Regions from separate parts of the Homo sapiens genome. Here regions 2, 3 and 4 are each reported to be linked to region 1. Evidence: microRNA targets listed by miRTarBase, many of them from high-throughput screens and not tested one by one. Region 1 holds a microRNA gene; each other region holds the end of a gene's coding sequence.
Evidence for each region. Region 1 holds the annotated microRNA hsa-miR-3116 (UGCCUGGAACAUAGUAGGGACU, at 1,920-1,941, opposite strand). A microRNA usually pairs through its seed, bases 2 to 8, with sites in the 3' UTR of a target mRNA and lowers its output. Matches are read on the target gene's strand: a 7mer-m8 pairs with bases 2 to 8, a 7mer-A1 pairs with bases 2 to 7 and ends in A, and an 8mer does both.

Region 2: the mRNA of UTP6 is a reported target of hsa-miR-3116. Seed matches in the 3' UTR shown: 7mer-A1 at 1,928-1,934, 7mer-m8 at 2,527-2,533 and 7mer-m8 at 3,588-3,594.
Region 3: miRTarBase lists DGCR6L as a target of hsa-miR-3116. Seed matches in the 3' UTR shown: 7mer-A1 at 5,651-5,657.
Region 4: the mRNA of GNL3 is a reported target of hsa-miR-3116. Seed matches in the 3' UTR shown: 7mer-A1 at 6,624-6,630.

Annotation. Positions count from the first base shown.
Region 1 is chr1:62,076,875-62,083,992 of GRCh38, forward strand. It overlaps MIR3116-2 (microRNA 3116-2), which reads right to left and starts at 1,982; the gene lies at 1,915-1,982. It overlaps PATJ (PATJ crumbs cell polarity complex component), which reads left to right. Exons shown (of 44, transcript NM_001350145.3): 32 at 2,576-2,693. MIR3116-1 (microRNA 3116-1) reads left to right here and starts at 1,912; the gene lies at 1,912-1,985.
Region 2 is chr17:31,857,681-31,864,798 of GRCh38, reverse strand. UTP6 (UTP6 small subunit processome component) reads left to right here. Exons shown (of 19, transcript NM_018428.3): 19 at 1,283-3,895. The coding sequence ends at 1,440. COPRS (coordinator of PRMT5 and differentiation stimulator) reads left to right here and starts at 5,555. Exons shown (of 4, transcript NM_018405.4): 1 at 5,555-5,698. The coding sequence starts at 5,600. RefSeq lists a silencer at 5,405-5,834 and an enhancer at 5,894-6,568.
Region 3 is chr22:20,308,813-20,315,930 of GRCh38, forward strand. DGCR6L (DiGeorge syndrome critical region gene 6 like) reads right to left here. Exons shown (of 5, transcript NM_033257.4): 4 at 6,524-6,664; 5 at 5,426-6,012. The coding sequence ends at 5,863. It also overlaps the pseudogene PRODHLP. Among named protein-coding and RNA genes, the nearest start is that of DGCR6L, 7.7 kb to the right of the region's middle. RefSeq lists enhancers at 4,606-5,161, 5,162-5,715.
Region 4 is chr3:52,693,909-52,701,026 of GRCh38, reverse strand. It overlaps GNL3 (G protein nucleolar 3), which reads right to left. Exons shown (of 15, transcript NM_014366.5): 14 at 6,924-6,990; 15 at 6,530-6,834. The coding sequence ends at 6,752. It overlaps GLT8D1 (glycosyltransferase 8 domain containing 1), which reads left to right. Exons shown (of 10, transcript NM_018446.4): 2 at 531-582; 3 at 667-765; 4 at 3,093-3,306; 5 at 4,368-4,485; 6 at 4,709-4,793; 7 at 4,987-5,099; 8 at 5,440-5,606; 9 at 5,725-5,837; 10 at 5,992-6,541. The coding sequence starts at 567. The coding sequence ends at 6,182. Among named protein-coding and RNA genes, the nearest start is that of SNORD69, 4.7 kb to the right of the region's middle.

The DNA of each region.
Region 1 (7,118 bases):
TGTGTGAGTTAAGACACAGGCTCAATTGCTGCAAGAAGTTCTCTTTAGCATAAGAGTCTGTGTGTGGCTGTGTGTGGTCAGTTGGGGAATGATATGGTGTCTCCAAAGTGTCAGAGACCCAAGCACCTCTTATCTGATTACTATACCATTCTTATTTGATTACTCTACCACCCTCAAATGGTGGCATCCATTCTTTAGTTTAAGAGGGCTGCTTCAGTTATTACCAACACATCTGTATTCCAAGCAGTGAGAAGGGAAAGACAGGATCTTTCTCCTTAGGAGAATGACCTAAAAATTGTACATTCACTTCTGTTTACATCCCATTGACCAGGACTTAGCCTGTTGGCACACCTACCTTCAATGAGGCTAGTAAATGTGGTCCTTAGAATAATTGGATATCTAAGTCCTCTCAATGTTGTTTTCTTATAGTAACCCCTTATTTGTCCTTTTCTACTTTCTTCCTTTAAAAATCACTGATAAATATGTAATTGAAAAAGTCTCTTTTTAGTCAATATTAAATGATGCTGATAGTGGCGGGGCACAGTGGCTCATGCCTGTAATCCCAGCACTCTGAGATGCTGAGGTGGGTGGATTGCTTGAGTCCAGGAGTTCGAGACCAGCCTGGGCAACATAGCAAAACTCCATCTTTACTAAAAATACAAAAAATTAGCCAGGCGTGGTGGTGTGCGCCTGTAATCCCAGGTATTCAGGAGGCTGAGGTGGGAGAATCACCTGAGCCCAGGACATCAAGGCTTCAGTGAGCCGAGATCACACAACTATTACAGCCTAGGTGACAGAGTGAGACCCTGTCCAAAAAAAAAAAAAAAAGAAGATGGTGATAGAAAAACTGCAGGAAAAAACAAAAAAACTCCATAGAATCATTGCCTATCAGCTGTTTGATAAACACTTTAAGCTTGTAGCATTCTTCAACTATTGACTTCCGGTTCTACCTCTTTCTCTAATTAGCAGTGTGATTTCAAATATGTCACTTGACATTTATGCTTGGTTTTCTGCAAAAAGAAAAAAAGTAATATTTAACTGTCGGGGTTGTTCATGTGATTGAATGAATTTATGGATGTAAAAGTGTTTTGAAAACTAGAAAGCACAGTGCATATGCACAATGGATGGTATTGTTTTGTTGTTACTGCACACTGCACAATGCCCTGTATTGAGGCACAGCTTTCCACTGACAGAATCTTGAGGTGTTACAGTTCTGGAGCAGTTACCTTGGTCCTATTTCTAGACTCCAGGGGCAACCTGGTGCTTCACTACCAGACTCTTCCAGCTGGGGATGGGTTCCCTGGCCAACTGCAGATCCAGAAGGCAGGTCAGGTTACTACCTATATTTCTTAACTGCCTGTTAAATAAGCAAGGAGTCCTTTTGGTTTTTCTTAGTGTATGTATGTATGTATGTATTTATTTTTGGAGACGGAGTTTCATTCTTGTTGCCCAGGCTGGAGTGCAATGGCACGGTCTCAGCTCACTGCAACCTCTGCCTCCTGGGTTCAAGCAATTCTCCTGCCTCAGCCTCCCAAGTAGCTGGGATTACAGGCATGCATCACCACGCCTGGCTAATTTTTGTATTTTTTTCAGTAGAGATGGGGTTTCACCATGTTAGCCAGGCTGGTCTCGAACTCCTGATGTCAGGTGATCTGCCCATCTCAGCCTCCCAAAGTGCTGGGTTTACAGGCGTGAGCCACCATGCCTGGCCCCTTAGTTTTTTAATATTAATATTCATTGGAGGTACTGTCAGCAAAAATCCAGAATTACAAGTTAATTTTTCCCAAACTCACACAGTAGAGGTCCCTGTACCTTCACTGAATTGCAAGTTCACTTTCTACCCTGAGTTACTCATGTCTTCAGTTTTGCTTTTCTTTGTTCTTTCTTTCTTGTTCATTCATTCATCAAGCACTTTATTGAGTCCCTACTATGTTCCAGGCACTGGGTATCGTAGGTGCCTGGAACATAGTAGGGACTCAATAAAGGAGCTATGCTTCCTTTATGTGAATTAAATGTCACTGATGTAGCTGGCATTTAGTAGGCTTTCAGTAGGTGTTGGTTTTCTTTGTCTGCCCCTCATTTTGCTTAATTAACCTACCAAATGCATCTTTGACTCTAGTGTGTCCAGAAGAAATGGACAGTGTTGATGCTCTAAACATCCCCAGCGTAGATTGTTTTTCAATGTGCACAACACAGATAAGTCACTTCAAAGTCCATAGATAAAGGGGCTTCTTGCTGATTTCATCAGAATGAGTAGAAATTGCAAGATAATTTTTGTTTTGCCTCCCACCCCCAGCTTCATGTACAGATCACACTGACAGAGTATCTTCAGCTTTTATCTTTCCTCCCTTCCTTGATCTGCCCTTCATCAAAGCATTTTAGTTGTAAAGTTAAATAGGGAAGAATGAGGAACGAGGCATAAATCATCCTAACTTCTTGCCACCCTCCAACCTTATATTCTCAAAAGACATCATTGGACTGCACCATTGTTTTGGTAACAATACACCAGTTTTAAAGTATTTTCTTGTTACCTTTCTCCTTTTTGATATTCATCTAATTTTCCTTTCTTTTGTAGGCTGTCAGCCAGATGAAACAGCAAAAATATCCAACAAAAGTCTCCTTCAGTTCACAAGAGATACCATTAGCACCAGCTTCATCATACCATTCAACAGATGCAGACTTCACAGGCTATGGTATGATTCTTTCTCTCAGCAGATCTGGCTCATTAAGCCTTAGAGAAGGCAAGGGATCATAATGTCCTAAAACGAGAACTGGACCAGGAGGCAGAAGTCTGACTCTGGATACTTCCTCCGCTTCCTTAGCTTTGGGGCTTGGATAGGTCACTTCATTTCCTACATCATTTTTCCTCCTCTCTGCCATCGCCATTGCCTGTTGCTTTTTGAATATAAGAGCACTAGAACAGAACAGGACCTCAGTAGGTCAGGAGTTCAAGACCAGCCTGGCCAACATGGTGAAACCCTGTCTCTACTAAAAATACGAAAAATTAGCCAGGCATGGTGGCGCATGCCTGTAATCCCAGCTACTCGGGAGGCTGAGGCAGGAGAATCGCCTGAACCCAGGAGGCAGAAGTTGCAGTAAGCTGAGATTGCACCACTGCACTCCAGCCTGGGTGACAGAGTGAGACTCTGTCTCAAAAAAAAAAAAAAGGAAAAGAAAAGGACCTCAGTAAATGTTATTTGAATCTGAGGCTTCTGTATTATTCTTCTCTAATCTCTACAAAAGATTATATTTAGGTCTTGAGTAATATCTCTTTAAAAATCCTATCAAACCCAATTTTTAGCCCTGCAAATGTTGCTTTAAGCTGTTTGAAGAATGTTGATTTTCAATGCTTAAAGAAATTGGCATGCACATTCTGTCTTTAAATTCCTGGCTTGAATTATGCTGACTGGGGGTTGAAAATAGAACTTTATAAAGAATAATAGGTATTTCTACTTGCTTTTTTTTCTTTTTTTTTGAGACAGAGTCTCATTCTGTCACCCAGGCTGGAGGGCAGGGGGCTGATCTCAGCTCACTGCAACCTCTGCCTCCTGGGTTCAAGTGATTCTCCTGCCTCGGCCTCCTGAGTAGCTGGGATTACAGGTGCTCACCACCATGCCCGGCTAATTTTTACATTTTTAGTAGAGATGGGGTTTCACCATGTTGGCCAGGCTGGTCTCAAACTCTTGACCTCAAGTGATCTGCCTGCCTCGGCCTCCAAAAGTGCTGGGATTACAGACGTGAGCCACTGTGCCCAGCCCTACTTTGCTTTTGTGCAGTATACATCAGTAAAAAATAAAACTCTTTAAAAGACAGTACTCACCAATGGCAAAGCATAACCCTGCATTAATTTAGCAGTTCTGAAATCTTTGTGGTATTTGCCTTTTATATATTTTTTCATAAATATTAACTTCATAAAGTTCATCAAGCAGGTACTATTTTAAAGCATTGTAGATGTACTAAAACATTTGATGCATGTGGTCAGAAAACTATGGCGCATGGGTCAAATCTGGCCTACCAGCTAGTTGTGTATGGTCTACAAGCTAAAAAAGGTGTTCACTTTTTAAAGGTTGAAAAAACACCTAAGAAAATTTTATTAAAATATTCTATGAAATTCATATTTCAGTGTCCACAAATACAGGTTTATAGACACTCATTTGTTTCTGTATTGTCAGTGGCTTTTTTCACACTATAATGATGGAGTTAAGTAGTCACAACAGAGACAGTCTGGCCTGTAATGCCCTATTAAAATATGTATACTTGGCACTTTACCAACAATGCATGCTGACTATGGAGGTAGACAAGTTGAGTTTTGGTAATATATATCACATATTTATACTTAGATGACAGAAATTCAGCATCCTTCCTGGTTTTCATTCTCATGGTTAAATAATAAATAAACAAATAAATAAATAAATGAAGTTCATCATCCTACAGTTGAATCTATAGAAATTTTATTCATTTACTCATCTACTTACCAAGCATTTATTGAGGACTTGGTATGAGCTGGGTTTGGGGCTGGATTCCATGAGAGAAGTAAATAAAAAGATTGACTCAGGACTGGCTAGGGTGAGGCAAACGTGGAGGAGGGAAAAGAAATGCCATCTCCAGGATGTCTCACCAGGTTTTTTTCTCTCTTCTCACTCAGGAGACTACGCTAGTCATTTACAAAGGCAGTATAAACTTTTTATTTACTTATCTATTTATTTATTTGAGATGGAGTTTTGCTCTTGTTGCCCAGGCTGGAGTGCAATGGTGTGATCTCGGCTCACTGCAACCTCTGCCTCCTGGGTTCAAGTGATTCTCCTGCCTTAGCCTTCCTAGTAGTTGGGATTACAGGCATGTGCCACCATGCCTGGCTAATTTTGTATTTTTAGTAGAGACAGGGTTTCACCATGTTGGTCAGGCTGGTATCAAACTCCTGAACTCAGGTGATCCGCCCACCTCAGCCTCCCAAAGTGCTGAGGTTACAGGCGTGAGCCACCGCACCCGACCTAAAAGCAATAGAAACTTTTTAAAGCACCCATGAAAGTGTGCCACTATCGTACGTCATTTTTATTGTAAATTAATGGGAAATGTGGTATAAAATACATATGCTGCAAAAAGATTTAAAGACAAATTTGGTTTACAATTTAATATTCTGCCTTGCCTGTATCTTACCTAGAGCCTTTCTTTTTGTCTTATTGGCAAGATTTTTCTATAAAGAAGTCGATAGTAAATATTTTAGGCTGTGGTCCACACAGCCTCTGTTGTAGTTTCTCACCCCTGCCATTGTAGTGTGCTAGCCACCATAGGCTGGCCATAGGCTACTTCTAAATATGGCACTTTTTATGGTTGTATCACTGAATTTCTTGCTGTTAACCAGGAGGCCTTTAGATTAATAAATTCCATATGGATGGGAACAAGATATGTGAATACCCACAATGTGCCAGACTCTGGGCCGGGCACCTCACACACACTGTTCATTTAGTTTCTCTAACAGCCTCTTTAATAGTGGTTACATGCATTTTTCTGATGAGAAGTGAGCTCCACTTTCACCCTCCTGTTAAATTCCTGCTTAGGAACTCAACTGTGGCTCTGTGCCACTCCAAAACCTGTGCCTTTTCATCTCAAAGACCATGATTATCACTTAGTTAGAGCAGAACCCCCACAGGCTTACCTAGAGCCTGTTTCTTTTTGTTTTATACCAGAGATTGACAAGCTTTTTCTATAAAGAAGTAGATTGTAAATATTTTAGGCTTATGGGCCACACAACCGCTATTGCAGTTACTCACCCCTGCCATTGTAGTATGCTAGCAGCCATAGGCTAGGCATAAATGAATTAGTGGGTTTGTGTTCCAATACGACTTTATTTATAGACACTGAGATTTAGACTCATATCATTTTCACATGCTTTGAGACATTATTTTTCTTTTGATTTTTTTTCAAGCTTTTGAAAGTGAAAAGCCATTCTTGATCCGCGAGCTATAGTCCGCTGACCCCTGCTTTTACATAGGTTTAATGAGCACTGGGATCTCATCTCAGCTCTGTGCATTAGCTGCAGCTGACCAGCAGATGGAGCCCTCTCTCATCAGCCCTTTCCTGAATTATATCATAATGTAAGAAACAATACTCATGGTGATCAAACTCAGTTATCAGAAAATATGACATTCTCTGGAGACTATGATTTGTATGAGCATCTCTTGAAGCTATTCAACATTTTATATGAGCATCTCTTGAAACTATTCAACATTTTGAATGTTTTGAGGTTTCGTTGTTGTTGTTGCCATTTTGAGACGGAGTTTCACTCTTCTTGGCCAGGCTAGAGTGCAATGGCGCGATCTCAGCTCACTGCAACCTCTGCCTCGGGCTCAAGCGATTCTCCTGCCTTAGTCTCCTGAGTAGCTGGGATTACAGGCATGAACCACGCCCAGCTATTTTTTATATTTTTAGTAGAGACGAGGTTTCACTATGTTGACCAGGCTGGTCTCGAACTCCTGACCTCAGGTGATCCTCCCACCTCAGGTGATCAGCCTCACAAAGTGCTGGGATTACAGGCGTGAACCACCGTGCCCGGCTGAATGTTTTGAGTTTTTAATAGGTTATCTGGAAAATGCATGTGTGTAGATTTTATGCTGGATAAACAGGTGTTAGTAAACATTTTTTCTTAGCCTATAAACATTTTTTCCCTCACTCTTTGGAAAAACCCAACCTAAAACAATTGTTTTTAAAAATAAACCTTTGTAAAAAAGCAATAACTTTTAAATAAACTTTTCCTCTATGAACCCCGCAAGTAATTTTTGAGTCTTGTGTTTATAATATATTTTGCTTTACTATATATGTAATATATTTGGGGATAAATTTTAGGTAATTGTTATTTTCAGGTATTTCATACTTTATTGATTAAATTCTTTATACATCTTAATAATTTAATTCATCTGATATGCTCTAATTGAAAGTATTTAGGCATTGTTTCTTAATTAGTATCCTATAGCTCAGAATCTCCTGTTATACCAGCCTTTATTCTCATTGTAACATAGGCCTTCATATACCTAATCATTTAATCATTGTAATTTTTCCATACAGATTTTCATGATGTATTTTAAGATTTTAAAACTTTTAGCCAGGTGCAGTGGCTCACA
Region 2 (7,118 bases), not on the chromosome of region 1:
AAAAAAAAAGTAACTGGGTATGGTGGTGCATGCTTGTGGTCCCAGCTACACAGCAGGCTGAGGTGCGAGGATTGTTTGGGCCCCAGGATGTTGAGGCTGCAATGACTGTGATGCCACCATTGTACTCCAGCCTGGGCAATACAATGAGATCCTGTCTCAAAAACAAAAACCAAAAACACCCCCTCTGGATTAGAGAAAGATTTGCATGGTTTTGTTTTCTTAAAAAAAATGTATTTAGAGTTACATGAAAGGGGTAAACGTGAGATGCTAATTGGCGTCTGTTGTTGACTATCTCCACATTGCCCTCATTTGTAGGACTTGTACAACATACTTCTGGGTATAGGTATGTCATGTAAAATCTGTGGACTTTGTGAACTCATAAACATTGATTTGTTTATTTTTATTTTGTTTTGAGACAGAGTCTCACTCTGTCACCCAGGCTGGAGTGCAGTGGCGCAATCTTGCCTCACTGCAATCTCTGCCTCCCAGATTCAAGCGATTCTCGTGCCTCAGCCTCCCAAGTAGCTGGGAGTACAGGCACGCGTGCCACCATGCTCGGCTAATTTTTGTATTTTCAGTCGAGATGGAGTTTCGCCATGCTGGCTAGGCTGGTCTTGAACTCTTGACCTCAGGTGATCCGCCCGCCTTGGCCTCCCAAAGTGCCGGGATTACAGGTGTGAACCACTGTGCCTAGCCAAAAAGTTTAGTATTTTTGAGTTCATTGAATAAAATAGACTTTTATGATTGATGTGAAGGTTTTCTACTGGGAAAAAAAACAAAAAACAAAAAAACAAAACTGATGAGGCACAGTGGCTCACGCCTGTAATCCCAGCACTTTGGAAGGCCAAGGTAGAAGGATTGCTTGAGCCCAGGAGTTCAAGACTAGCCTGGGCAATATAGTGAAACCCTGTTTCTACAAAAAATAAAAAAATTAGCCTAATATGGTGGTGTGCCTGTGTTCCCAGCTGCCCTGGAGGCTGAGGCAGGAGGGTCACTTGAACTCAGGAGGTTGAGACTGTAGTAAGCCATGTTCCCGCTACTACACTCTAGCCGGGGCAACACAGTGAGACCCTGTCTCAAAAAAGAAAAAAACACACAAAAACAAACCAAAACCTGCCACTATACTTTAAAGAAGCTAAGAGAGGTATTGTTAAACAAAGCGTCCTAGGGAAGTAACAATGAGAAGTTAAGTTTCTTAGAAATCTTGAGTTGAATTGATATTTAATAAGGTTACCTAATAACACTCTGTCAGTTATCTAATTGTATGTTTTTTTTTTAAAAGATCTTTGGATGGATTATATGAAAGAAGAATTGAACCACCCCCTTGGTAGACCTGAGAACTGTGGACAGATCTACTGGCGAGCGATGAAAATGTTGCAGGGAGAGTCAGCAGAGGCATTTGTAGCTAAACATGCTATGCATCAGACTGGCCATTTATGAAGATGAAGAATACAGTCAGCTTTGTGAAATAGTATTGCAAGCAAGCCCCGTGGGCAAATTTGTATTGAGTCCATCTGTAATTTGCTCAGTGATGGCAGACAAGATGGCTGTCTGGTTTTGAGACACACTTTAATTTTATGTTAACTTGTTAAATCTTTTTAAAAATTAAAAAATTTTTATGATTGAGACTGGGTCTTGCTCTGTTGCCCTGGCTGGTCTTGAACTCCTGGACTCAAGTGACCTTCTCACCTCAGACTCCTGAGTAGCTGGGATTATAGGTGCATGACACTGCTCAGTTTGATGTGCTAATCTGATTCCAGTAAAGAGAATTGCTGATTTAATGTTGAGGCCCGATCTTCCACAGGTCCTAAATGTTTCCCAAAATACATGGATAGCATACGACTGGGTTTTTTTAAAATTATCCCAGGTCAAGCATGAGTATCTCTAATCTCGACCTAAGAGCCAGTTAAAATGAAGGAGAAAGTGGCCAGGCATGGTGACTCAACGCCTGTAATCCCAGCACTTTGGGAAGGCTGAGGCAGGCGGATCACCTGAGGTCAGGAGTTTGAGACTAGCCTGGCCAACATGGTGAAACCCCGTCTCTACTAAAAATACAAAAATTAGCCAGGTGTGGTGGTGGGTGCCTGTAATCCCAGCTGCTTGGGAGGCTGAGGCAGGAGAATTGCTTGAACCTGGGAGACGGAGGTTGCAGTGAGCCGAGATCATGCCATTGCTACTCCATCCTGGGTAAGAAGAGCGAAACTCCTTCTCAAGGAAAAAAAAAAAGGAGAAAGTACAGTTTTGTTGGTTTATTCTCATTATAAAAGATACGTGGTATGCATTTGTTCTGGAAAATATGGAGGAAATAGAATAGTGTGGTAAAAAAAAGCATCCTGTCACTGGGAGAAGCTTTCAGTGTAGCTTATTGTTACGTTTCACTTAGTATTGTTTTTCTGTGTCATTAAATAGCCTTAAAAACATTTAATGAATTCGTAACATTACATTGTAAAAATGAGCCATAATATATTTTACTAATCCTCTGGTTAGACTGTCTTTTTTTTTTTGAGATGGAGCCTTGCTCTGTCATCCAGGCTGGAGTGCAGTGGCTCCATCTCGGCTCACTGCAACCTCCACCTCCCGGGTTCAAGTGGTTCTGGCTCAGCCTCCCGAGCAGCTGGGTGGGATTACAGGCACCCGCCACCGCGCCCAGCCAATTTTTGTATTTTTAGTAGTGCGGGGGTTTCATCATATTGGCCAGGCTGGTTGCGAACTCCTGACCTCATGATCCACCCGCCTTGGCCTCCCAAAGTGTTGGGATTACAGGCGTGAACCACTAAGCCTGGCCTGGACTGTCATTTCTAATTTTTTTAAAAATTAGATAAATGCTGTTGATGAAGATTCTTGTCAATCTTTGTTCACATCCCTGGCCATTTCCTTAGGAGATTGACATCCGACAGTGGAATTACTGGATCAAAGGATACTGCTTTTAGAGAATACTGATATGTATTGCTGGTTTGCTCCTTCTTTCAAGCAATACATGAAAGTGTCAGTACCCTTACCTGTACTGGTGTAATTATATCTTTTATTTTTACCATTTTATAGGTGAAATGTGATATGTCATTGTTTTACCATACTTTGATATTAGTGAAGTTAGTGTATTTTATGTTTCTCATCTTTTTACATCCTTAGACTATTTAAAAATTTTTTTTCTTACTAATTTATGAGTTAATTTTTTTTTTTAAATTGGACAAGTTCTTGCTTTGTCACCTAGGCTAGAGTGCAGTGGTGTGATCATGGCTCACTACAGCCTTAACTTCTGGGCTCAAGAGATCCTCCCACCTCAGCCTCTTGAGTAGCTGGGACTGCAGGTGCACACCACCATGCCTGGTTAATTTAAATTTTTTTTTGTAGAGACTGGTCTTGCTATGTTGCCAGGGCTGGTCTCTTAAACAGTTGGGCTCAAACAATCCTCCTACCTCAACCTCCCAAAGTGCTGGTATTATAGGCATGAGCCATTGTGCCTGGCCAGAGTTTTTAAAAACATATTCAGAATATTAATATCTTGTTTCTCATTTGTTGCAAATAATTTTACCCCCAGCCTTGTTTGTGGTGATTTTTTTTTTTTGAGACAGAGTCTTGCTCTGTGGTCCAGGCTGGAGTGCAGTGGTGTGGTCTTACTGCAACCTCTGCCTCCTAGGTTCAAACAGTTCTCCCTGCCAAAGCCTCCCAAGTAGCTGGGATTATAGGCACCTTTTGTGGCGATTTTTGATGCCCAGAGGTATTTTGTGTGTGTATGTGTGATGTCTGTTTTTAAAATGCTTTGGAAGCTCTTCCTGGTGCTGAGAACAACTCTTTTTCCCCAAGCAGTTAATTTTGCCAACACTATTTGGGCAGTTATGTTTCTCTCTGCTGATTTGTGATGTTACCTTTATTATATATTAAATTTCTATGAGTATTAGAGTCTACTTTAGAACATTTTTATTTTAAGCTTTTGTACTGTTTTCTTTTTCTTTCTGGTTTTTTTTTTTTTTAGACCAAGTCTCACTCTGTCGCCCAGGCTGGAGTGCTGTGGGGCAATCTCTGCTCACTGCACCCTCCACCTCCCGGGCTCAAGTGATTCTCCTGCCTCAGCCTCCCGAGTAGCTGGGATTATGGGTGTGTGCCACCACGCCTGGCTAATTTTTGTATTTTTAGTAGAGATGGGGTTTCACCATGTTGGCCAGGATAGCCTTGAACTGACCTCAAGTGATCTGCCTGCCTCGGCCTCCCAAAGTGCTGGAATTACAGGAGTGAGCCACCGCGGCCAGCCCCTGTTTTCTTGTCATTTGTTTTAAAATAAGAAAAAAATTCCTCTTTTTCCTGTCCCTTAAGTCCTGGGATGTTTAACATTCTTAATCTTATTTGGCACTTTAATTTTACGAAAGAGATATGTAGATTAGGGAGCAAAGAGGATAGTGGTAGTCTCCTTAACACAAGGCTATAAGGGTGGTCACCTGGGGTCATCACATCCCTGTATCTGATTCTCAATATTGCAGGTTATGAAAACACATCTAGCTAGTACACCTAGAGTTGCACTGTTAGAAACAGTAGCTCCAAGGCACATGTAGCAATTTAAATTTATTAGAATTATTCAATTTATTCACATTGGCCACATTTCAAGTGCTCAGTAGGTATATGGTTACTATATTGGACAGTACAGATAGTAGAACTTTCATTTCCACTTCCACCATTAAAGAACGTTCTATTGGACATTGCTGACCTAGAGGCAGTTAGCCTTGGGGATACTGACTCCTGTGTAGGAACATCTACATATAGAACAAAAATAATATCGAATATTGTGTGTCAGTTTTATGCTAAATTTTTTCAAATGCCTTTTGTGTTGTACAAACAACACAGTCTTTGAGGGGGATGAAGGAAGAGGGTCTCATGTCCTGATGTTGACGTGATTAGCACACCTTGAGCTGGTTTGTTATTAGAGGTTAGGCACTGTGGGGAAGGCAGGGAAGGCTGTCTTTCCAGTTGGGCTGTTCCCAGCTCAGGCCCTGCCTATCCCCAGAAGCCACCTTTCGAGGCAAAATGGGAAATAATTAGGTTGTCGGTATCAGGCGTTGAGCATGGAAATACAGGAATCCCGAATGTTCAGGATTATTATGAGTAAGCGTCGTGGCCTGTATTCTGTGTCCACTGCATATTGCAGTTTGTGTCTTAATCATCTATCTTGGTTTCTAATGGATTAACTTCAAAGACGATCATTAGCTCAAGGTGGAGGTCACTGGGTTGCTCATGTGTCTTACCCACGCGGGGTTTTGAAGCTGGAGCACACCCCGAGTGGCCGAGTAGGGTACGCTTGGCGTTTCACACGCAGCTAGTCGTGCAGCCTTAGGATATGCACCGAGAGGAGTTTCCAAAATCCGTCTCCGAGATTGTTTCAGATTTCGCGCTGGGAGGGAGGGGCGGGCTCCGCGAGGCCGCGCGCCCCGCCCCCTGCGCCGCCCCGCCCCCGCTTGCTCGTGACACCCCCGCGCCCCGCCCTCTTGGCCGGTACCCACCCCCTCCCCAGGCTGATTGGCGCTTCTGCGGCGGATCCTCGGGCGGGCAGCCGGGCCGGCGCGTCACGTGGCCCACGGCGTCCAGGGCGACCAGCCGCGGGCCGCAGGGCATGGACCTTCAGGCCGCCGGGGCCCAGGCGCAGGGGGCCGCGGAGCCGTCTCGGGGCCCGCCGCTGCCTAGCGCGCGGGGGGCGCCCCCCAGCCCGGAGGTGAGCGCCGCGTGGGGGCCAGGAGCAACAGCCAGCCGCAGCCTGGGGCGGGAAGTCGCGGGGCCGGGCTGGGCGGGGGCCGCGGGGCCGGGGAAGCGCCTCTGGCCGGCCTCGGGCCGCCCCGCGACACGGAGCGCTGTTTGGGCTCGCGCTCGAGCTGAAAACGGCCAGGCCGCGGGGCCGCGGGGCTGCGGGGCGGGGAAAGCCGAGGGCGTGGGTGGGCGCTCTGGGTCAGCAGAGACGGCTGTCCGCCCGCTGGGCGCCGCTGCGGATTTGGTAAATGGGAGGTGACGCTGGTGACCGAGAGCCGGGGCCCGCTGCCAGGAGCCTGGGCGAGGGCCAGGTGAGGGCGGCGAGGAGAGGGACTTGACTTTACAGACCTGTGGACCTCTGTCCGTTGGTGGGGATGCCAGCTAACCCTGAGCCCCAGATGTCACATGCGCGCTCCCCCTTCTCCTTACTGAAACCAGAAAGGCCCTGTTTGACGCAGGGTTTCCAGAAACTTGTTTTCATGTAAGCTAGACAGCTCCTGGTTTTCCCGAGAACGTTACAGACCGTTATTACAGTTCTTACCTGTCCTTGTTTACAGTCTGTACCGGCTAGGTGCTGAGCGGCTTGAAGGTAGGAACCCTCTGTTAGGGCTGTTTGCACAGCCTAGCATAGTGCCTGGCACAGGAGATAGACATACCGACTGGATGAATGATGCCTCAAAGATGGTACTTAGCCAAAGTAAGATATGAAAAATGCAGCGACACTTACAAAGAAAATTACTTTGGAGTGCAGAATAGAATGGGACTAATTTTGTCAGGGCATAGCAGGAAAGGATCAAGGTGAGAGGCTGGTGGTGTCTGCAGAGGCGTGGAGATGAGAAAGTGCAGGGCACATGGCCTGGAGTTGGGTCTCAGAGCATGCAGAGAACTATGCTCAACAGGTTGATGGGAGTGGGAGAAGAGGGGACGTGCGAATGCCATGGCTAATTTTGTGCTCTCTCAGTGGAGGGCTGTTGAAGGTTTTGAGCAGAGTAGTGATTAATTCTGTAAGGCTGGGCCAGATGGCTGGATGGGAAGGTGGTTAGGAGGCCGTGGCAGTGGTTTAGGTGAGAGGTCTGACTTCTCCTTGGGCGGCAGTGACCAGAGGTTGTCACTAACTACAGGGAGTGGAACTGAATTATTAAACCCAGACATGACTAGATAATGAATGCTGATTGGAGCAGGTGCCGAGTACAGTTTAGATGTAGCAGAAAAGATGAATTTAAATTCAAGAAATGTTACATTCTTGCCACATGCCAGGTGTTTTCATAAATGGTGTCTAATCATAAGTCCCCTGCAGGGTCAGAACAGTCACCCCTAATTTCTGGAGAAGAAAACTCAGGCACAGTAATTGAAGTGATGTGTTCAAGGTCACACTCTGAATGGATGGC
Region 3 (7,118 bases), not on the chromosome of region 1:
GAGTGTCCTCGCTGCAGGAGGGCCGTACTGCTCGGGCTTCCTGGTGCACCGGGATGCCCACCCCCACTGTGCCCTACAGGGACCTGCTTCCCTTTTATTTCCTTTCAGGGCCAGGGGTGCACTGTACGATCCCTCCCCAGACGCAAAGCTGTGTCTGTCATGAGGCTTATGGGCATGTTTGGGCTGGTCCCCAGAGTCACGGCATGTTTGATGCAGGGACGCTGTGCCCCAGCTGGTTCTGTGTGAATTGTCTGGTCCCAGACATCGCTTTTGCTTGGTTGCTGGTCTTTCTTTTTCATGAGGTGCTGGGAGGGGCAGATGCTGCTCCTGTTCCTCCTGATCCTGTGGATACCCTTGGAAAGAGCCAGCTCACTGGATGGATCTGGGTCTGCCTTCGGCCTCCTCTCTGTGCAGCTGGTAATGAGAGGTGCAGGCGACCACAGGCCTGGAACTGGGCTCACATGGCACTCTTCACAGGTGCCTGGACTACGTGCTGGAGGAGCTGAAGCACAACGCCAAGGCCAAGGTGATGGTGGCCTCCCACAATGAGGACACAGTGCGCTTCGCACTGCGCAGGTAGGTGTGCCCCACCCTGCACCGAAACCCCAACCTGAGCCGTTGTCTCCTCCAGCTGGGGAGAGGTGGCAGCAGTGCAGAGCTCAGGGTGGGCAGAGTGACCTGCTGGGTGGTCGGGCATTTGTGGGGAAAGGCTGGTGAAATGAGCTGGAGGGTGGCTTCAGTGGGCAGGCCCAGGCCCGCTGGCATTCTGGACATCGGACTGTGAGAGCACAATGGCTCTTTGCAGTTACGTTGGTTTTTAAAATTAACTTTTTTTTTTAGATAGAATCTCGCTGTCACCTATGCTGGAGTGCAGTGGCGTGGTCTCAGCTCACTGCAACCTCCGCTTCCCAAGTTCAAGCAATTCTTCATGCCTCAGCCTCCCAAGTAGCTGGGATTACAGGCATGTGCCACCACGCCTGGCTAATGTTTTGTATTTTTAGCAGAGACAGGGTTTCACCATGTTGGCCAGGCTGGTCTCAAACTCCTGGCCTCAAGTGATCCTCCCTTCTTGGCCTCCCAAAGTGCTGGGATTACAAGCATCAGCCACTGTACCCAGCCTTTTAAAAATTAACATTTGACTTATTAAACTTCACAATTAAAAAACTAAATTTCATCAGGGTATTCGGATGGCTCCTGAAAGGTACAAATGTAGTGTTGGAGCCCAGTCCCTCAGGAGGCCTCCACAGCGCTGCCTCATTTATAAGCAGTTCCCTTAACATTTTAACTACATCTGGAATGTAACGGTTTGTTTTCTCTTTAAACATTTGTCCCATGGAGCACAACTTCGGTAGAATTCTAACAAGTCAAATGCAGAAGTTAGGTGAAGTCAGTTCTTGGATACTCCTGTACTGTCACCCTGGTCTTATCTCATGCCTTAGCCCAAGCTATGCACACAATGGGGTCCTAGGTCCCCCTCCCCTCCCAGATTCCGCCTTCCCAGGGATGGGACCCCCTAGAACCCTCGGAGGCCTGGGCAGTGGCCTCGCTGGCTCTCGCCTTCCTAGGAGCTGAGCAGGAGCTCCACTCTCAGCAGGGCAGGGTGCCCCAGATCCATGACTTGTGGCACGAAGGGGCTCCCCAAGAAGCTGTGAAGCCACAGGGCCAGGCTTGGGGCCAGGGCTGCAGCCAACAGGACACATCCTGGTGCTGCTCGGGAGCTGACTCACGGCTCTGAAATCATTCAGTGATGTCCACATTCAGCCTTTGTTTACGATGCTGCTACTTTTTCATGGCCTGAAATTGCAGCACACCCATTTTTGTGCCCTGATCCTCTGCTAATTGTCATAGATGTGTCGGTGATGGGACAGACTCACTTTCTCCACACGCACAGGCCTGGTGGCCAGCACTGCCCAGCACTCGGGAGCTGGTGGGGGTTCCTCTCAGCTTGTAATCAGGACTCCCAGCCTCTGGGTGGACTCTCAATGCTGGTGGACTCACAGCCTGACTAGACACATCACCATCCAACTCCGAAAGGACAGCCCGCCCTCAGCAGGGCTTCCTCTCTCCAGCTTAGCCCCGGCACCTGTCTGTCCCTACTATCTTGCTGTGGCAGTGGCTTCCCCAGTGGACACAGCTTCCCCCTCCCGAGTGGCAGCCGGGCTCTCTCCTCTTGGCCCCAAGGGCCCTGTGCCGGGCTCCCCCAGTACCATGCTCACATCCCTGCCTGAGAGGCTGGACCCCTGCAGGCTTCAGCTCTGCCCCTGCTGTGGGTGGCTGGGGAGCTCTGGGGAGCTGGGGTCCCCTCCCATGGGTAAGTGGTTCTAGACTATGGCAGCTGCTCTGTCCTGTGCTGGGCCCAGACTGCCACACCACCCACCCTCAAACAACCCGAGTTGGCTTTGGCCAAGGAACAAACCAGCCCCAAACTTAGAGGCTGGAACAGTGGCATGTTCTGTAGGCCAGGGGTGGGCTGGCTCAGCTGATGCTTCTGCTGCTGGCTGTGCCTGTGTCCCTCCTGCGTCTGTGATCTGGGGCCGGTGGGGCCTAATGAGCTCATTCATGGCTGGTGTAGTAAAGGAGACTACATCCTGGGTCCAGCGTCCCACAGGCCAGCCCAGGCTTGGGCACGTGGTGGGCTCAGGCTTCCAGAAGGCCTGGAGAGGGCAAGCCTCTGCTTGTGTCACCTTTGGTACCTCCCTGTTGGCCAAAGTGCCTCACGAGGCCAAGCCCAGATGCCAGGTGGAGTGAGCCACTGTCCTGTGCTGGGAGGAGCCGCAGTCACATGGCAGAGGCTGTGCACACCAGCAGGGGAGGGGGCAGCCAGCAGTGGCACCCGGCTCTCGGGTTCATGTCCTGGGGTTGAGGAAGACACAAGATGGAAGCCAGGGCGATGTGGCAGAGATGGGTGCCTGCTTTAGACTGGGTGGTCCCGACACTGGAGCCCAGCCCAGGGATGGAGGGAAAGGGCCTCTGGCCGATGGGTACTCTGGGAGCCAGGGCTGGGGCAGATGGAGAACAGGGGAGGTGAGGCCCTCGGGGAGGGAGTGGGAAGCACAGCACAGGCACTGCCAGTCACCCGGGTGATGCGTGAGCAGCAGGCGGAACTCGCCCCAGGCTGGGGGACCCAGTGCTGTGCAGACCAGCGAAGTCGGGATACCTGGATATAGTAAGCTGGAGATGAAACTTGAGAACTGTCACTGCGTGGATATTTCAAACCCTGAGAATCTTTGTAAGACCCTATACGGGGTGGTGTGAAGACAGGACAGAGTGGAGGCCCCACCCCAGTATCTGAGCAGTGCTAATAGATGTATAATGCAAGCCACATCTGTAATTTAAAGTTTTTTGGTAGCTACGTTAAAAGATAAAATGAATTTCAAGAATACATTTTAATTAACCCAAAATATACAAAATATTACTTCAAATTGTATTCAAGTTGATTTTAGAAAAGCAATGCGGCATCGTGCATTTTTCTAGAAAGTCTCCTAAATCCCGTGTGTATTTGACATTTGCAACACATCTCGATTCAGAGCAGCCGCCTTCCGAGGACTCGGGGGCTGGTGGCAGCTGTGTGGGACACAGCAGCTGTGGGGATGGGGCAGAGCAGCAGCCCACAGAGGGCGAGGGCAGGGGCCGGAGACCAGTCATACCACAGAACCCTGGAGGGGCTTGAGGAAGGGATGGCAGGAGAGCTGAGGAGCTTCTCTGCCCTGTGGGGCAGGCTGCTGGGTGGGTCAAAGCCCCAGAAGGGCTGCACCTCCAAGAAGGGAGGTAGAGGAGAGGTGGGAGAGAGGAGGGTAGGGAAGGCAGGAGGGGGGCCTTGTTGGCTAAGGGCTGAGGCCTCCCCAGGGAGAAGAGTAGGGCAGCCCAGCAGAGTCCTGCTGGGAAGAGGCCTCACTGGGAGAGGGCCGGACAGAGCCTATATCCCAACCCCACTTCAAAGGGGATAAAGTCTGGAGAGTGTAGATGGGGGACCTGGGGTGGCAGGACAGGGTCAGAGCTGGGACAGGGGCCCTGTACCCCTGCACCGGGGACAGTGTCCTGGAATTAGCCCTCAGCTCCTGGCTTTACCTGCACAGGATGGAGGAGCTGCGCTTGCATCCTACTGTACTTTGGACAGCTGCTAGGCATGTGTGACCAGATCAGCTTCCCGCTGGGTGAATGGGGCCCTCCCTGGTGCGATGGAGTGTGGTGCTGGGCCTGGGCCTCATGGCATTATCTGCCCCCATGCAGGCCAGGCTGGCTACCCTGTGTACAAGTATAGGGCTGTAGGTGCTGTCATACGTGTCCTGCCACGCCCTGGAGAACAGCAGCCTCGTGAAGGGTGCCCGTCGGGAGCGGCAGCTGCTGTGGCTGGAGCTCTTGAGGTGGCTCCGAACTGGCAACCTCTTCCATTGCCCCACCTAGCACCCCCCCGCCCCCGCCCAGGCCATCACCACAGCTGCAGCCAACCCCATCCTCACACAGATTCACCTTTTTTCACCCCACACTTGCAGAGCTGCTGGAGGTGGAGTCAGGTGCCTCCCAGCCCTGCCAATGGTGGGGGCACTCAGGTGTGGGCTGACCCTGATACCTGCCTGGGATAGCCGCTGGTAACTGTTAGGAACTTTCCTCGGATGTGTGGGCCCAAGGCCCCCACCTCTGTGACCCCCATGTCCTTGGACCTAGAGGATTGTCCACCTTCTCCCAAGGCCAGCCCACATAGCCCGAGCCCCTCGGGGAGCAGTGGCCGGGCTGGGGAGGCCTGCCTGGTCAATAAACCACTGTTCCTGCAGCTGAGAGCCCTTTGCCCTCACACAGGGTCAGCTCTGGGCAACAAAGAGGGAGTGGCTCAGACAGGGTCAGAGAAGTCTCATCCCAAACTCTGGCTTCCAGCATCATCTGTTCCTGGAGGCCAGGCCCTGCGCAGACCTGGCCACCCAGGGTGCTGGACACCCCCAACCCTGACTCCACAAGGACCCAGCAGGGCCCATGGGCCCAGGCCAGCACGGAGGGGACTCATGCAGATGCAGAAGCCAAGCTCCCCAGGTGGCCCTGGCATGCCTCCCCGCAGGGCTCCTCCTCAGGCCATTCCTGCCACCCTGAGTCCTCTATCCCAGTGACCTGCATCAGGCTCCTCCTAGTGGTTCCCACAGGACACTGACCAGGCTGCGGCAGGCGCATACTTGCACTCCGGGCCTTCTCCCATGCTCTCCAGCCCCCAGCCCCACAAAGCAGGCTGGATGTGGTCCTCATGCCCTGGGGCTTGGATGGGGGCCCCTGTACAGATGGCAGTGACAGCATCCTGGGACCAGGGCTGGGGCAGGAAAGGCTGGAGGGTCCCAGTCTCCAGGCAGGGGGAGGGGTGGTGGGCTGGGCACACAGCCCAGGAAGGGGCCCCCAGGTAGAGGCCTCTGCTGCAACAGAGGTGGGGGCCCTACCAGGGCCCCGGTTATGGCAGAACCTGCAGCTATCACACAAGCCACATTTGGGCCACACTGAGGCATCTTTATTTCTCTGGGTCACACAGAGCTTGGGCCTGGGAGCCTCTTCTGCATGGGGGCTGCAGCTGCCAAGGGAGCGGCTGAGACCAGAACAAGCGCTCGGGTGGGCCCCAGTGCAGGTTGGGATGTGCCCGGTGGAGTAAGGTGTGAGAACCCCCAGCCTCACTCTCTGCCTGGTCCTGAAGCAGACAGCAGCAGGCTGGCCCAGCCTCCCCTTTATGAGACTATCCTAGGGTTTGACAGCAAGTCCCAGATGAAGGGTGACAGGCAGCTGGGGTCCACCTGGTCTCTCCTCAGCAGGGGGAACCCCCTGCGGGCAGCTGGGAAGGCAGTGGCCAAAGGTCAAGAAGATGAACTCTGCCCAGACTTCTGCTGCCTGTGGCTATGGTGGGACAGGGCTGCCTTTCTGGTCACACTGGGCAGCAGGCGACTGCCAGGGACCTCCCAGTCCCAGGGCTGCATTCCCTGCCCGGCAGCCCCTCTGCTGCAGCTTTCGGATGAGTTCCAGCAGGTTCATCTGCAGCATCAGCTCCTGGGATACAGAGGGGCCCCATGAAGGCCAGAGTGACCCCCAGGCCCCTTTCATCCCGGCCCAAGGGTGCCAGGCAGTGAGCCCACGGGGGCGACCATCCTGTGAAGCCTGGTCATGGCCTGCCAGGACAGGGTGGAATCTGAGCTTCTGCCCCCAACAGGGCCACTCGGAATCTGAGCCTCTGCCCCCAGCAGGGCCACTCGGAATCTGAGCCTCTGCCCCCAGCAGGGCCACTCGGAATGGCATGCGGGAGGGGAGCAGAAGAGGGCCCTGTGTGGCACAGCAGGCCTGGAGAGGGTGGGCAGTGCCCATGGCTGGCTGGCTCACCCTCCTGTAGGGAATGGGCCTGGCCTCCGTGCTGGGAATGGCACAGAAATCCTTTCCAGAGCCTCAATCCTTCCACTTCACCCCCATACCCTGAGCCTGGCTCCCCAGGGACCAGCAGTAAAACCCCAGATGGAATGGGGCCCCGGGGCACTCGGGCTAGGGCAGAGCAGGCCCAGGCACTGACCTGTGGGTTGGTGGTCACGTAGAAGCCAGCCACCCCCGCCTTCTCCAGTGTGCTCTGCTGGTCAGCCACCTTCCGGTCCAGCTCCAGGATGATCTTCTGGTCCATCGCCCGCTGCTCCTCACGGATCCGGTGTTCCACGGCCTGCCATGGGGCCAGGGCGCGGAGGGGGAGAGGTGAGGGCAGCTCTGCCATCAGGGGGCGGGGAGGTGAGGGCAGCTCAAACACATGCTCCTGCTGCCGTCCCCAGTGGCAGCAGCTCTGACACCACCGGTGCATCCTCACCACACCCAGGCCTCTCCTCGGCCATGTGAACCCCTGAAGGGGGCCCCAAGGGGCTTCCACGAATGCCCTGGCTTGGGACTGCCTTAGGACCACACACACATCTCCACAGGCACACCCTGCCCCACGGCTTGTTGGTTACATGCCAGTCTCTGGTTGTCCCTGTGCTCCCTGGGAGAAGGATGGGCCCCTTCCTGGCCCCAACACCCTACCATTGCCTTTGTACCCCCCTGAGGCCACCTGCTCTGTGGAGGCCCAAACCCACGAGGAGCTGCTATCCAGGGGAGCACTGGTGGGTTCTCAACCTCCACCCAGC
Region 4 (7,118 bases), not on the chromosome of region 1:
ATGGCATGATCTCGGCTCACTGCAACCTCTGTTGCCCAGGTTCAAGCGATTCTCCTGCCTCAGCCTCCTGAGCAGCTGGGATTACAGGCCCCTGCCACTGCACCTGGCTAATTTTTTTGCAGTTTTTAGTAGAGACGAGGTTTCACCATCTTGGCCAGGCTGGTCTTGAACTCCTGACCTCATGATCCACCCCACTCGGCCTCCCAAAGTGCTGGGATTATAGGCCAGACCCTGCCTGGCTGAAACTTAATTCTTAAATGTTTCTTTTGCTTTTCATCTTGTGATGTATAATGTACAAGGCTAAGGCTGTTTCTCCAACTTATTTTTAAGTTTTTTATTAATGAGTACCACAAAAATTTCAGATCCCAAATTGGGTTCTTGGGAACTGTGAATTCAAAATGAGTTTCTGGCGGAATACTGTATATGCCTCTTGTTTCTTCCTGAATTAAAAAAAAAAAAAAAGTGTTAGGGCATTTTGATGTCCCTTCTCATGTGCTTACTGACTTTGGGGGCTTGTTTTTGTTTTGTAGGGTTAAAAACTAATATTTATATGACAGAAGAAAAAGATGTCATTCCGTAAAGGTATGCTCTTTCTACAAGTTAAGTTGTTTTTATACCTGGTCAAAGATAAAGAGGTATAACATAGGTTTTCCCTATCTATTTCAGTAAACATCATCATCTTGGTCCTGGCTGTTGCTCTCTTCTTACTGGTTTTGCACCATAACTTCCTCAGCTTGAGCAGTTTGTTAAGGAATGAGGTTACAGGTATGCGAGCACTTATTAATAATGCCTTAGAATCTGTTGCGGACCTGGTATTCTCTGTGTCACACATCCTAAGTTGTTCTTCTTCCGGTAGTACTAGCAGTTGTTTGTTAAGGGTTTGATCTGACAGAATATTCCTTTTCACCAAATCAGAGGCCTTAGGAGAGCCTCTGAGGGCTGCCATCTGTTCACATGTCAGCAGGACAGGGCTTCAGAAAGTGAGGGCATACCAGTGTCCTTGGTGTTTGATGCCTGCTCTAGTCACTAGAGTGTCAGTCTAGTTACTTTCCTTCAGCTGTGCAGCTGCATCAGTGGGACTGTAGCAATAAAAGTTTGTCAAGTGATTTTTAAAAATCACTGTGTTGTATAATATATCGCACAGTATATTGAATTAGTCGTTCATACTGTTCTCCCTTGGTACTGAGAAATGTTTGAGGCTTGAGTGTTTGTCAAAAATCATTTTTGGATTGCCACCCACCATAGCTGACCAGAGTGAGAGACTGTAATAGCTTTCCCCTGACTTTCACGGAGTGCTCTGATAGCATGTTTTATCACGTGTATATATGTATGATACATATAAAGTAATGCATGTTCCTGGTAGGAAAGTTTATAAAAAAGAGAACAGCGGCCGGGAGCAGTGGCTCATGCCTGTAATCCCAAAACTTTGGTAGGCCAAGGTGGGCGTCTCACAAGGTCAGAGATCGAGACCATCTCAGCACTTTGGGAGGCTGAGGTGGGCAGATCACGAGGTCAGGAGTACAAGACCAGCCTGGCCAACATGGTGAAACCCCGTCTCTACTAAAAATACAAAAATTAGCTGGGCGTGGTGGTATGCGCCTGTAGTCCCAGCTACTCGGGAGGCTGAGGCAGGAGAATCGCTTGAACCCAGGAGGCGGAGGTTGCAGTGAGCCAAGATCACGCCACTGCACTCCAGCCTGGTGACAGAGTGAGTCTTCGTCTCAAGAAAAAAAAAAAGAGACAACAGTATTTAAGCTCCATGAAGGCAATTTGTGTACTGTTTTATCTTCTGTGCCTATGGATGATGGCTGATACTAGCTGTTCAATAAATATTAGTTGGTTGAATGATTTCATTTACAATTTTGGCTTAGTACCTTCCAGTTTTTTCCTACACATCTTTTTTTCTGTACAGTTGAGATTGTACTATATATAAACTGTACATGACATGTTTTTCTGTATATCATGTCACTGTGATGGTAGAAACTCTTCATACATAATCTTAATGTCTATTAATTTGTTTCCACAGGATAACATCTTTTGCTACAACAGCTTTCAGACTTTTTGATGGCAGCCCTACAATAGGAAATACATTACATGTAGCACATGTACATACATGTGTATTTGCTTATTGGCTGTCTATCCTCAGAAAGTTAGGGATGTTTTATTCATGGCTGTAACCCCAGTGCCTAGATATTGCCTGGCACATAGTAAATACCAGGGTTCAATGAGGAATAAAAAAAAAAAAATGAAAGGCAAGAATGCATACAGGACAGTAATTGCAGTTTCCTTGTGTGATACACTATGTTTTCTTTGGTATTCTAATTCAGTTTTCTTTTTTTTTTTTTGAGATGGAGTTTTCCTATTGCTGCCCAGGCTGGAGTGCAGTGGTACAGTCTTGGCTCACTGCAACCTCCACCTCCCGAGTTCAAGCGATTCTCCTGCCTCAGTCTCCCAAGTAGCTGGGATTACAGGTGTTCACCACTACACCTGGCTCATTTTGTATTTTTAGTAGAGATGAGGTTTCACCATGTTGGTCAGGCTGGTCTCAAATTCCTGACCTCAAGTGATCCACCCGCCTCAGCCTCCCAAAGTGCTGGGATTACAGGCGTGACCTACCATGCCCGGCCTCTATTTCAGTTTTCTATTGCAATCCAGAAACTTTTTCTGTATAAATTGATTGTGACTCACTCAATTGGTTTCATGCCTACTTGTGATTCGTGACTTGAAAAACATTGATTTAGTTTGCTGCTAAGTTTTCACAATTTAAATAAAATTCTTTCTTTTGATTATATTTCAGATTTTGTCCTTAGGAAACTCTTGATACAAATTGCCATAATACATTCTAACAGGTTCTGTTATTTTCCTACCAGTAGTGTACCAAAGTGCTGTCAGTGTATTTTAAAAAATGCTTCCTCCACTTTTCCAAAAGCTTATTTACATACAGGGAAAGTTTCAGGGCTATATGCTTCAGTTTAATGGGGGAGAATGAGGTAGATCAGTACCATAATCCTTACCTTCCCTTTTTCCATGTCTTGGACTCTATATCAAAAGCCCATGAGATTGTAATCACAGTGCCTTCCTTGTGTTTTCAGATTCAGGAATTGTAGGGCCTCAACCTATAGACTTTGTCCCAAATGCTCTCCGACATGCAGTAGATGGGAGACAAGAGGAGATTCCTGTGGTCATCGCTGCATCTGAAGACAGGCTTGGGGGGGCCATTGCAGCTATAAACAGCATTCAGCACAACACTCGCTCCAATGTGATTTTCTACATTGTTACTCTCAACAATACAGCAGACCATCTCCGGTGAGCTCTGCTTATGTGATTCTGCTTCTAGAGGATGATTTAGAGCAGGCCAGCTGCCAATCCAGGATCTGTTTTTCTGTGGTTTGTATGTTGTTTTATACAATTGAAATTGTACCAGTGATAAACTGTACAAATGACATATTTTTTTTAGGACTGTATTATGAGCATATCCCCATAATAGGAGAAGTGATACAAGGAGCTCATGCCAGGAAGTAAGTCAGCTGTCACTCTGAACTGTTAACCCCACCTGATGGTGTTTTGATAATAATACTTTCTCAGTGAAGGGAGCAGTAAATGTTGATTTACAAGTCACAAGTTCCTTATTTCATGGACATGCTCGGAGCAGTTCTGGTCTAGAGTGGGAAGGGACTTAGCAACAATGGCAAGGTAGTGTTGTGATGCTGATCACAGATCCTGATCCAAATCCTGGCCCAGAGTGATCTGGGGAAACTTGGATAGTCTAATCCATTTTGAAAATGAATAAGACTTATAAAACTTACTCCAAATTTGTTGGTCTAACAAATTAACCAGTTGTCAAATTTCTGAAACATTTTGGTCCTTGTGGCCCTCTGCATGGTTCATATTTAGTTTTTAAAGCTGTAAATTCTGAACGCATTTAAAATACAGAAACAGAAGCTGTATAAAAATAGACTACAGAAATAACACTAAGTAGCCACAAAACACTGATTTGAAACTGACCTAGAAAAAATGTGCAGTACTCCTTTAGCAAACAGTTTTTTCTTACAGGTAGTGCCTCAGACTTGAGTGGTGGAATTAGGGTCACCACAGTTAAGAGTTGGATAGTCCAGGTGGTGATGAAATGTTCTTAATTCTATAGTTTTTCTAGAGTAGTTTTAGTGTTAGAAGATAATTACCATACAATCTTAATTCAGGGAGGGACTTTGGTGGGAATTACCCTCACTTCAGACGAGGAAACCAAAGCTCAGAGATAAAAGGAGCTTGAAAACACCTATTTGGTCCATAGGGTTTCTTTTGCATTATTCCCTCATTGGTTTGGAGACATTATTTGAAACTAAAATGTAGTGTTTTATCTTCATCAGGTCCTGGCTCAACAGTGATTCCCTGAAAAGCATCAGATACAAAATTGTCAATTTTGACCCTAAACTTTTGGAAGGAAAAGTAAAGGAGGATCCTGACCAGGGGGAATCCATGAAACCTGTGAGTTCCATGCATCCTTCTTTGCACTTGGCAGTATTAGGAAATAATGGAATACCTGGGTATCTGTGGGTATAGTGCAAGTAGTTTCCTGGGGACCAAGCCTGGGTGGTTCTAAGAGTCCTTTCTTCTCCTGAATGGGTACTGAAAGCATCCTAGGAGTTTCTGTGTAAATAAAAGCACAGCTAGTGCGGTATCCTATGCCAATTATTCTTTCCTTTTCCAGTTAACCTTTGCAAGGTTCTACTTGCCAATTCTGGTTCCCAGCGCAAAGAAGGCCATATACATGGATGATGATGTAATTGTGCAAGGTATCAAAAATGTCACCATGAGTGCTGTTCTCCACCCAGATTGGGTACAATTGCTAAATAAAACAATGGGCTACAGTGGGCTGTAGTGGTTTATTTATGGTCTTCTATAAAAGGTCACCATAGGGAGAAGTGGGAGTAACAGGGAACTCTCAAGGCAACGGAAATGTAAATCTTAACATCTTGTCTATTTCAGGTGATATTCTTGCCCTTTACAATACAGCACTGAAGCCAGGACATGCAGCTGCATTTTCAGAAGATTGTGATTCAGCCTCTACTAAAGTTGTCATCCGTGGAGCAGGAAACCAGGTAAATTGCTTACCAAACACCCCTCTTCCTACAATATTGTTTAATGGGAAGAGGTTGCAAATTCAGGGAACTCTTTTGCTGCAATTTACACTCCCCAATCATTTCATCCCAAAACTCAAGCCTGCTTTTCTGTAGACTTCTTCATGGACTTGACAGCCTAATTGTTCTTGAACATCTGGTTTATTATGTCAACATCTAGGTTCCTATTCTAACTTGGAATTTCAAATATTTATTTTCTAATCTGAAGAAGTCAGTTTAACAGCTCTTCTCTCTACTGGCTATAAAATTGTATCTATTTTGTTTGAAGCAGTAAGTACATATATCCTATTTGTGTTTTTAGTACAATTACATTGGCTATCTTGACTATAAAAAGGAAAGAATTCGTAAGCTTTCCATGAAAGCCAGCACTTGCTCATTTAATCCTGGAGTTTTTGTTGCAAACCTGACGGAATGGAAACGACAGAATATAACTAACCAACTGGAAAAATGGATGAAACTCAATGTAGAGTAAGTATGTAACTGGCCTAGCTGTGAAAAACTGTTGTATTTCAATTCCTAGAGTCTTGACTAACAGGAGTTAGTCAGTACTTTTCACTAACAAACATTTGTTTTCTGTCCCACCAAGAGAGGGACTGTATAGCAGAACCCTGGCTGGTAGCATCACAACACCTCCTCTGCTTATCGTATTTTATCAACAGCACTCTACCATCGATCCTATGTGGAATGTCCGCCACCTTGGTAAGTAGAATTAACCAGTGGCATAAGCTAGTAAAGAATTGGTATCTAAAGAACTATCCTCAGGGATGGGGTATATTCTTTGTTTCCCTTAAGTAAGTTTTCTGCACAATTTCACATGGCGCAACGATGTGGCTATTTTTGTCTCAAATGTAAGGTTCCAGTGCTGGAAAACGATATTCACCTCAGTTTGTAAAGGCTGCCAAGTTACTCCATTGGAATGGACATTTGAAGCCATGGGGAAGGACTGCTTCATATACTGATGTTTGGGAAAAATGGTATATTCCAGACCCAACAGGCAAATTCAACCTAATCCGAAGATATACCGAGATCTCAAACATAAAGTGAAACAGAATTTGAACTGTAAGCAAGCATTTCTCAGGAAGTCCTGGAAGATAGCATGCGTGGGAAGTAACAGTTGCTAGGCTTCAATGCCTATCGGTAGCAAGCCATGGAAAAAGATGTGTCAGCTAGGTAAAGATGACAAACTGCCCTGTCTGGCAGTCAGCTTCCCAGACAGACTATAGACTATAAATATGTCTCCATCTGCCTTACCAAGTGTTTTCTTACTACAATGCTGAATGACTGGAAAGAAGAACTGATATGGCTAGTTCAGCTAGCTGGTACAGATAATTCAAAACTGCTGTTGGTTTTAATTTTGTAACCTGTGGCCTGATCTGTAAATAAAACTTACATTTTTCAATAGGTATCTTCTTTTTTTATTCCAGATAACTACTTCCACTCACAATGAGATGAATTGTCTTTTTACAGAATTTAGGGATTCCAAGTTGCCTGGTTTTAATATAATACATATTCACAAAATTTACACAGCTCATGCATACCATAACTTATACAGAGAACAGTTTAGCAGTCTGCTTAAAATGTTAAAAAAAAAATCATAAAAAGCCATTGTTCTGTTACACATAATCTGTACTGAAGTCATAAGCATCATCCTCTTCAATGATTTTATCCAAGATAAAAGACCTTGTAGACTGTTCACCTATATTGCAGGAAAATAAAGAGATTTTCAAAAAGTAAAAGTGATTCTATACCATGCTGCTTCGTTAGAACCCCTTTTGCCTGCCTCACCTGCTGTAGTCTCCTCAGACAGTGCCTCCCCTGTCTCTTCTGCAGCAAACATGCCTGAGCTGTTTTCCTGTGTGACAAAGAAAAATAGTGCTGGATTAGTAGCCCTTGTCTGCTCATTTAATCCAAGTAGTTATGTACCTGAAAAATTAACTCTTTGGAGGTACATATAACGGGATGTGCAAAATTAAGGCTAAT